Linked DNA regions of Homo sapiens: region 2 is reported to be linked to region 1. The links are microRNA targets in miRTarBase. Many come from high-throughput screens and were not tested one by one. Region 1 holds a microRNA gene; the other region holds the end of a gene's coding sequence.

Evidence for each region. The annotated mature microRNA hsa-miR-508-3p reads UGAUUGUAGCCUUUUGGAGUAGA and lies in region 1 at 2,898-2,920, opposite strand. An mRNA with a match to its seed (bases 2 to 7 or 8) in the 3' UTR can be bound and repressed. Matches are read on the target gene's strand: a 7mer-m8 pairs with bases 2 to 8, a 7mer-A1 pairs with bases 2 to 7 and ends in A, and an 8mer does both.
Region 2: miRTarBase lists PIKFYVE as a target of hsa-miR-508-3p. Seed matches in the 3' UTR shown: 8mer at 3,561-3,568.

Annotation. Positions count from the first base shown.
Region 1 is chrX:147,234,048-147,238,331 of GRCh38, forward strand. MIR508 (microRNA 508) reads right to left here and starts at 2,980; the gene lies at 2,866-2,980. The region is part of intron 2 of LOC105373347 (periphilin-1); the gene reads left to right.
Region 2 is chr2:208,354,889-208,359,172 of GRCh38, forward strand. It overlaps PIKFYVE (phosphoinositide kinase, FYVE-type zinc finger containing), which reads left to right. Exons shown (of 42, transcript NM_015040.4): 42 at 302-3,858. The coding sequence ends at 417. Among named protein-coding and RNA genes, the nearest start is that of PTH2R, 50 kb to the right of the region's middle.

The sequences.
Region 1 (4,284 bases):
TCATGTATCAACGACGCTTTTTAAGAACTAAAGCTATCACAATACAAAAATCTCAAAATAACAAACACATGCTCATACACACAATTCAAAAAAACCATATAAGCTAAAAAAAAAAAATCAATCAACAAATAATGCAAATTATCCCTAACAAAAGAAAGAAATTTTAGCCTTATGTACCAAAACTTCTATAAATGATTTTTTAAAAAGTAATGAATCAGAAAAACAGGGCACAAATAAATAAAAACTAAAAAGTAAACCAATAATATATTTTTAAACCCCTATCAACAATCATCCCAAATTAGAAAAGCTCAACAAACAGGATTAAAATAAATAAATAAATCAACTACAACAAATTCCAAACAGAATCAATACATGAACTTATCAATTAGAAAGCATGTTGCAAATACCAAACCATGTAAGCATACACACAGATACTGAGGCAAAACATTTAAAATCCAAGCAAACTCCCACAACTTAAAAAAAAAAACACATCCCCAATAAAGCGCACATATATATGAAAGACAAAACTTTCTGAGCCCCACACAATTAAAGGGGAAAAAATAACTACAGCAACAAAACAAAATTCATACAAATTTAAATATCCCAAAACACAAGGAAAATGAAGAACCCCCCCCCCCCACACACACACACAAAATAAAACAATAAACACAAACTGAAACTAAAAATACATGGAAAATAACAAAATACTTTAAAGAAGTCAACATCATTCAAAAATAATCACAGAAATGCACGCATACACACCCACATCCATCCACCCACCCACCCACTCACATATACACACAAAAAGTCAGCTGAAAAGCAAATAGAAATACACTAGAGAATAAAACAAAGAAAGATATAGCAAAACAGCAGGAAAGAAACAAACATGTCTAAATACACAAAGGAAACTACAACTAAAACAACTCCCAAGCACCTCTCAGTACAAATCAAACCAAACGCATAAATTAAAACCAAATCAAAACCAAAGAAGAAAACTCAGATTGGAACCAACAACTAATAATTAAATCATGACAGCCCCCTCCCCCCGAAACAGGAATAAAACATTTGCTGAAACACAAACCACAATTCTAACTTAAAAAAAAAAAAAAACTTCAAGTATGCAACGAAACAACAAGCAGAGGTGCCATGAACACTGAATTGCAAACAATAAAAAATCACACTGTACCCCCAAAATATGTACAATGATTATGTGTCAGTTAAAAATAATAATACAAGCAAACAAAATAAACAAATAAACCTAAAAAGGAAGAACCAACTTTGAAAAATAAATGCACAGAGACTGGAAATGAAAGGACAATTATAAACAAAATAATATCACAAAAAACAAAAACAAAACCAAAATCAGACAGTTACCAATGTCTGGATAAACAATATTACTAAGCAAAAACAATTTGAAAAGTCCCCCCAAACCCAACCACAATATGCACATGAACGAATCAACTAACTAAATTAACTCATTTGTAAAAACCAACACACACATACTCACACACAAACTCACACCTTCTCAAAAATAAGCACAAATTTGAGAACAATTTGCAGTGGTGCCACTGTCACTGCCCCAGACACACATCTAGGGTGGTGAGACTTTCTGCCCAGGAAAACTCTTAGAGCTCATGAAATAGGGAAGAAGATACCATGAGCAGTAGACACTGGTTGTACACAGGCGATAATGTAGTAGTATTAGTGATATAAGAGAAGAATACCCTTCCTCTTGATTACAATCTAAATTTTTGCCAAGATTTGGAACGGAGTGAGACATGTCACTGACTCGAGATGACAACAAAATTCCATAAACTTCAACTTGCCCACTTAAGGTGCTTTATGAGAATTAATCCGGAAGGGGTCACCAGGATGATTACCCTCCAACCCCACTCCACCTCCATTTTTCCAGCACCGTAGTGTGTACAACCTGCTTCCTAGTCACTGCTCCAGTCTGAAGATGTTCTCCAGGGATCCGGCGCTGGCCATCTTTTGTCTGTGATTCTCAAGTTTTCTTTCTGAAGACCTTAGGTTAAGAAGGAGCAACTGAAGGGAAGTGGAAGGGAAAAGACAAATATATATGTTATCATTCTCAATAATCTGAGATGAATACCTTCACTTCTTTTTATTCCTTCATATAATTTTAAAAATAAAATGTTAAATATAATTCAAAGAAAACTAACAAAACAAATATTCTAGGCAACTTCTTAACCTTTTATAGATATGTTGAATTTAGAAAGGACTGATATACACATATTTTCAATAAATATTTTTTAAAATATACATATAAATATTTTTTAAAAATATATACATAAATATTTTATATATATATATATTTTTTTTTTAACCAACAGATAGATAATTTTGGAAATAATGTATTTTTCCAAGTAAGGAAGAACACACAAACTCTTAAGGAAAGGCTTGTCTTCAATCCTGAAAGAGCAAGAGCTTTTTGGTGCAGAGGGATGCTTCTGAGGCAGGAGGGAATTTGAAGAGCCCACTGGGAAATGAAAAGGCTTGGAAGCTAAAAGAAATGTTGTGAGGAAAAATACGTTGGAGGTTTTTCAAGGCAAAATGAATAGTTGGGCTCTGTAGCAGTAGAAGCTCTGAATATAAAAAGAGGAAAAGCCACATCCTCACTACAAATTTTCTTACCTGTGTGGGCATGCCTCCTTTGGACAAGGGTATATAAATCCCCGGAAAGCCTACATGGGTGATTTTTCCTGGGAGCCCTCAGTCCCTAGGATTTGCCTTTCAAGACCTGCCTATGGGAGTCCATTGAGTTAGCCCAGCAAGGGGAGGGTGGTGCTTGGACACAAGGGAGGGCAGCTCTGTGCATGCGGCTGTATACACTCACACCCATGGCCACCAAATATGCGTTACGTGATGTGTATTACTCTACTCCAAAAGGCTACAATCATGTTTTAGTTTACATGAGTGACGCCCTCTGGAGTAGGGCACTACACTCAGCTGAAGGTGGTGGCTCTACCCAAATATATACGTGAAGTTTAGATACGATGAAGAATTTCTAGTATGTTTGCCACTCCATTCCCATTCTCTAACCATCCTTTAGTGAGGATACTCTTACTTGCTGCATATTTCATGTGCTGATTTTGAGGACTTCTTCTCTTCAGTCGGCAACAAATAATCTCACCAACATTTTCCTATGTATTTTCAAGTCATTAGGAATGGCATATTAAAAATGATTTGTGTTCCACCAGTGTTAAAGGTCTCCCCACCCTCTGTGCCCCCAAATTCCTAGTCCCTTGGTTCAGAGTTATTTAACTTTTAACACCAAAACAACAGAGAGAACAAGGTAAACATGCAGAGAATTCAAGCAAAAGAGATAGATCATTTAGGCAGTGCCAGGATTCATAGGACAAAAATCTCATTTTCTCCACCATTCCTGGGGATTATACAGATCATTTACCTTGCCTGGAATCATTTCCAAGAGAGCAATTGGCTTAGAACCTAGTTATATCTTATTCTTCCTTCTCAGCCCTGGACTTTCTCAACATTTCCTAGAGTTCTTGTCAAGAGGGTCTCTTTCAAAATTTTCATTTGGAGACACAGGCCTCCCAGGAATCTATTTTTTCCTTTCAATACTGAGGCTGAAGAAAGGGGGAAGCAAGTAGGAGTAAGAGATCCACAGACCCCAAACTAGTTATATTTTAAGAGCTAGGGAGCCAAGTTAAACAAAAGACTGTAAAGAGAGAGGGAGGTGCACTGAATAAATTAAAGGATTAGCTAAATTACTTGCCATGGAGCAAGAGAAAGGGAGATTATGGTGTGGGACATTTAATCTGGACATGTCCAGGTCTCCCAGCATTCAGGAACCTCCACCAGTGTCAGTAGTCCAAAATGACCCAAGTCTACAGCTACACACCAATAAATCAAAACTCAAACAAAAATATTTCTAAAATCAATTCTACCTCATAAATAAGTGAAACAATGCTCAATATCACTAATTAGGGAAATGCAACCAAAACCACAATGTGATACGACTTCACACCCATTAGAATCAATATTATCAACAAGCAAACAAACAGAAAATAACAAGTGTTGACAAGTGAAGAAATTATAACCCCGTGCATTGCTGGTAGGAAAGTAAAATGGCACAGTCACCACAGAAAACACTATGGTGGTTCTTCAAAAAATTAAAGATATAATTACCATATTTCAGCAATTGCAGTATTGGGTATATACCCAAAAGAACTGAAATCAGTATTTCAAAGGGACATAGTGCCCCCATGTTCAAAGCAGCATTATTTATAATAGACAAAA
Region 2 (4,284 bases), not on the chromosome of region 1:
AAGAGATTGTCTTTAATTAACACTTGAGACTTCCAAGTTCTCTAAGCACTGTTAGCCTCATTTGTGCTCTTAGACATCGCTCATCTCTAGGCAGGAGCTAGTCTTTTTAAACAGAAACTCGTACCAGGTAGGACTTTGTCCCATGGCATGTGGCACAACAGATAACCTTTCCTGCCCACTCAGACTGCTTCTGCATGTGTATCTTTATGGCAGTTTATATGAAAGAACATGGTCAGTTGACTTCAGTTGCCCAATCAATTATATAACAGCTTTTTCCCCCTTTTCTCTTTCATAATCTCAGGTAAAATGCCAACAGTGGTGTCTCCGGAGTTGTACAGGACTAGGTTTTGTGAGGCAATGGACAAGTATTTCCTAATGGTACCAGACCACTGGACAGGCTTGGGTCTGAATTGCTGAAATCAAGCACATATTTTGAAATGGACTGTGAAGGAAAAGGGGACAGGAACAAAGGACCAAAAATAAGCTACATGTTTTATTTCTTCATCGTGTTCACCACTGTATGCCAAGGCTTTTCAGTTCTGTGGCTGTTTAGACTGTCCGTAATGGAATGGTAAAACTCCATGAATTTGCACTTTGGTTTTTGATACCTGTGGAGCTGTCTGTAGGTTGGGAAGTGGCATGAAAATTTTCTTAAGCTAAAATACAGACATGTTTCAAAGGGCTAAAGTTGGAGATGAGTAGATAGGGTGAAAAATGGGTTAAATTTGCTAGCTTAATTGTTTTAAGAAGAAAACAGTGTCTCATAAATTGACTATCCTGGCATCACATTTAACATGTTATCTACTTAGAAAGCATTTGTAGAGCTGCTGAATTTGTTTTGTGTTTTTCTGTAATAATTTAATGTTACTTATTATCAGAATTTCTGAAACCTTTACAAAAATTCTGATTTATTCCATTAATGGCCGGTTAAACACGTGGGCATTTATTGTTTTATTGAGGAATTTGACTTAAACTGGGAATCCTGTCATGTTGTTTATCTTTCCAGCTTGCCTGTTTTTGAGTATGTTTGATGTTTTTAAAATTTTGTCTTCTCTGTGGAAGACAGGAGGCTACAGCAATTAACTTTAAGCCTCCTTTTAGAGATATTTTTAAAACTTGTTTAAAATTTTTGTGCAATTCATATATTAAATTGCACTTACTTGCATACGCTCATATTCTAGGGTTTTTTCTCTATTTTTAGGGTATCATAGTAAATCATTAGTAAATGAGTCTGTAGTTACTAAACCCTAATGGAATAATTATTAATGAAAGATTTTTGAAATATAAAAAATAAATTAGGCCCAATCCAAGAAATTGAGTGAGAAGGAAACACTTGTTTTATTCACAGAGGTAAAGTGTCTTTTCAATATAACCAGCAATTTAGGTGGCATCTATAAAATAAAAAATTTCTACTGTGGACATCCCCTTTTCCAACTTTCTACATAATGGCTAGTTCTGACTACTAAGAAATGTTAAGAAATAGGCCAAGTGCGGTGGCTCACGCCTATAATCCTATCACTTTGGGAGGCCTAGGCAGGCAGATCACCTGAGGTCAGGAGTTCAAGACCAGCCTGGCCAACATGACGAAACCCCATCTCTACTAAAAAGACAAAAAATTAGCTGGGCATGGTGGCATATACCTGTAACCCCAACTACTTGGGTGGCTGAGGCAGGAGAATTGTTTGAACCTGGGAGGCGGAGGCTGCAGTGAGCTGGGATTACACCATTGCATTCCAGCCTGGGCAACAGAGCAAGACTGTCTCAAAAAACAAAACGAAACAAAAAAAGAAAGTTATTCTTAGTAAGGAACTTCTTGTTTAATAGCATTTTTGTTTATTTTAAAAAGTGATCAGAAGTAGTAAACTATCTTTGAGGAAATACTGTAACCCCAGAATATTTCCTCTTGACTTCTTTTTGTAACAAGGATAATTTAGGGATTTATAAAGTTGTAAGGATTTCACTGTTTTTGGACTGCCTATAATAATAGCACATTAACCTTCACATAATAAGAAATCTGGACAAGTTCAGTTACACAGTATGATGAATACTTGAATTAGGAACATTGTGGAAAATTTGCTTTAGAGAATCAAGGCAGTAGTTTGGTATTTGGTGCTTATTAAAAATGTGGTTTGTTTTGAACTGGAAGCAAGTTGACCAAGGACTTATGACTAATGTGATGCTAAGTTCCACTTGGCCCCTTTTAAAAACGTGTATGTGCCTTTTGAAGATACACAAAACACTGAGGATTTTAGTTTTGAAATCAAAGACTATTAAAGGAGCTGTACAGAGGTAAAAAAATAAATGTGGAACATTATTAACTTACTTTGTGTCTAGGAACAATGGATTTTGTATCTGATTTAAAATGCCAACACTGTTTTGTCTCTGTTCATTTTTTCTGTGAGGATACTTAAGGTTATTATTCCTGTCTGTTTCCTGTACTCCCCTAGTCATGAGCACTTGAAGTACAAGGTGTCTCCCCCTAGGTGCAATTAGGTTGTTTCTTTGTTTTTAGTTTCAATTCTATGTGCATAGCAGGAATGCTCCACAGGAATGGCTTCTGACAATAATCTGTCCTGTTGATTTTGTTTTCCTTGCCCATGACTTGAACAACTGTGTTTTAAAGTACTGTAGTCTAGTAGGTAACTTTGTGGCAAAAATTTTCAATATAATACATTCTGAAACAATAGTTGCTGCCTTGCAAAGGTAATCTCTCATTTTAAAATTGGACAGTATTAATGAAGGGGAAATATACAATTTATTTCTATTGAGTGGTAGAACTATATGTCTGGTCCCTTGCTGCTCTTGTTTAGGCCACTATCATAGATATATTTCAAATATTGTACTACTCAGTGTTAAGTATTGAATGACTGTTTCCCTTTCCTTCAAGGCCTAGAGTATATTCTGAAAATTTAGGAATGAGGAAGAAATCTTAATACTTCCTTCCTTAACATACAACATGAGTCCCGAGAATAATTGATAGTAGCAAGAGAAAACTATGTCAGTAACATGTTGCTTTGTATAAAAATCTTATTTATAAATGTGAAGCTTTTTGATGCCATCAAAACTTATTAAAAAATAGGATTTACTTTTTTCTAATTCTGACCTAAGAAAAATAATGAGAACAAGCTGTTGCAAGCTCTTTTGTAGTCTATTGAATATTTTATAGATATTCAAAATTTCCTACAAACTATAATTTTTTCCATGATTTAGCAGTGAGTGATTTTCTAGCTTTGGCTCTTATTAGGTATTGTAAATAGTAGGGTTATATCGATATCAGCTTTTGTGATGGCATTGTGGTCATCAGCTTCATGACATTTTACCCATTTGCAGTGATCCTGTGTAAAACTGCCAAGGAAAGTAATTACCTGTAGGAGTTTGCTGAGCTTGAAGAGTGAAAACTGTTGTGAATGAGCCTGATCATAAAACGGACCAGGCCATTCATTATTCCTCAAGTGTTAATATACTGACTTATGCAGTATTCAAACCATCTAGTGCAATGTTTTTGTTTTTGTTTTTTTTTTGGTAACACAGGTGCAGTGTATTATAGAAAAAATAAAAACTACAATCATTAGCAGTTTTAATACTGCTGTGTCAGTTTTGTAAAAAATGTACATTATGTCTTTTGACATGTTGAATTTTAAACTAGGGAAATGACATTGTAAATCATAGTAGCCTCTTTTAATTTAATATGAAAAATGCCACTATATTGAAAGTACTTAATGTATTGTATATATTTCTCTACTTTGGTTCTAGCTATTTTATATGATTGACATGTTATTTAAAAGATAACTGCCTTGAACTTTTGGAGACTTGTACTGTAAATAAAGAAATCTTAACAATAAACTCAGAATCTACTTACTCCACTTAGTTTTGAATCTGCTTGAAGAAATTGACAACAAAAGGAAATGGAGTTTGTCCTGCAAGCCTAGTCTTTGTGTTACTGGTGGAGGGTGTCCAGGTTCTTGGCGTTTTGAACAAAGAATTGGACAAAACACAAAAAGCAAGGAAAGAATGAAGCAACAAAAGCAGAGATTTATTGAAAACGAAAGTACATTCCACAGAGTAGGAGCCCAGGAGCACTGGGGCACAACAGCTCCCGTTACAGAACTTTCTGGGGTTTAAATACCCTCTAGGGATTTACCATTGGTTAGTTGGTGTACACCCTGTGTAAATTAATTAGTGGCCTGCAATCAGTGTGATTGGTTGCAGAAAGCAACCCATCAGGCTGAAGTGAAGTTACAAAGGTTAAACCCTATGCAAGTGTCGTTGTGGAAAACAACCAGT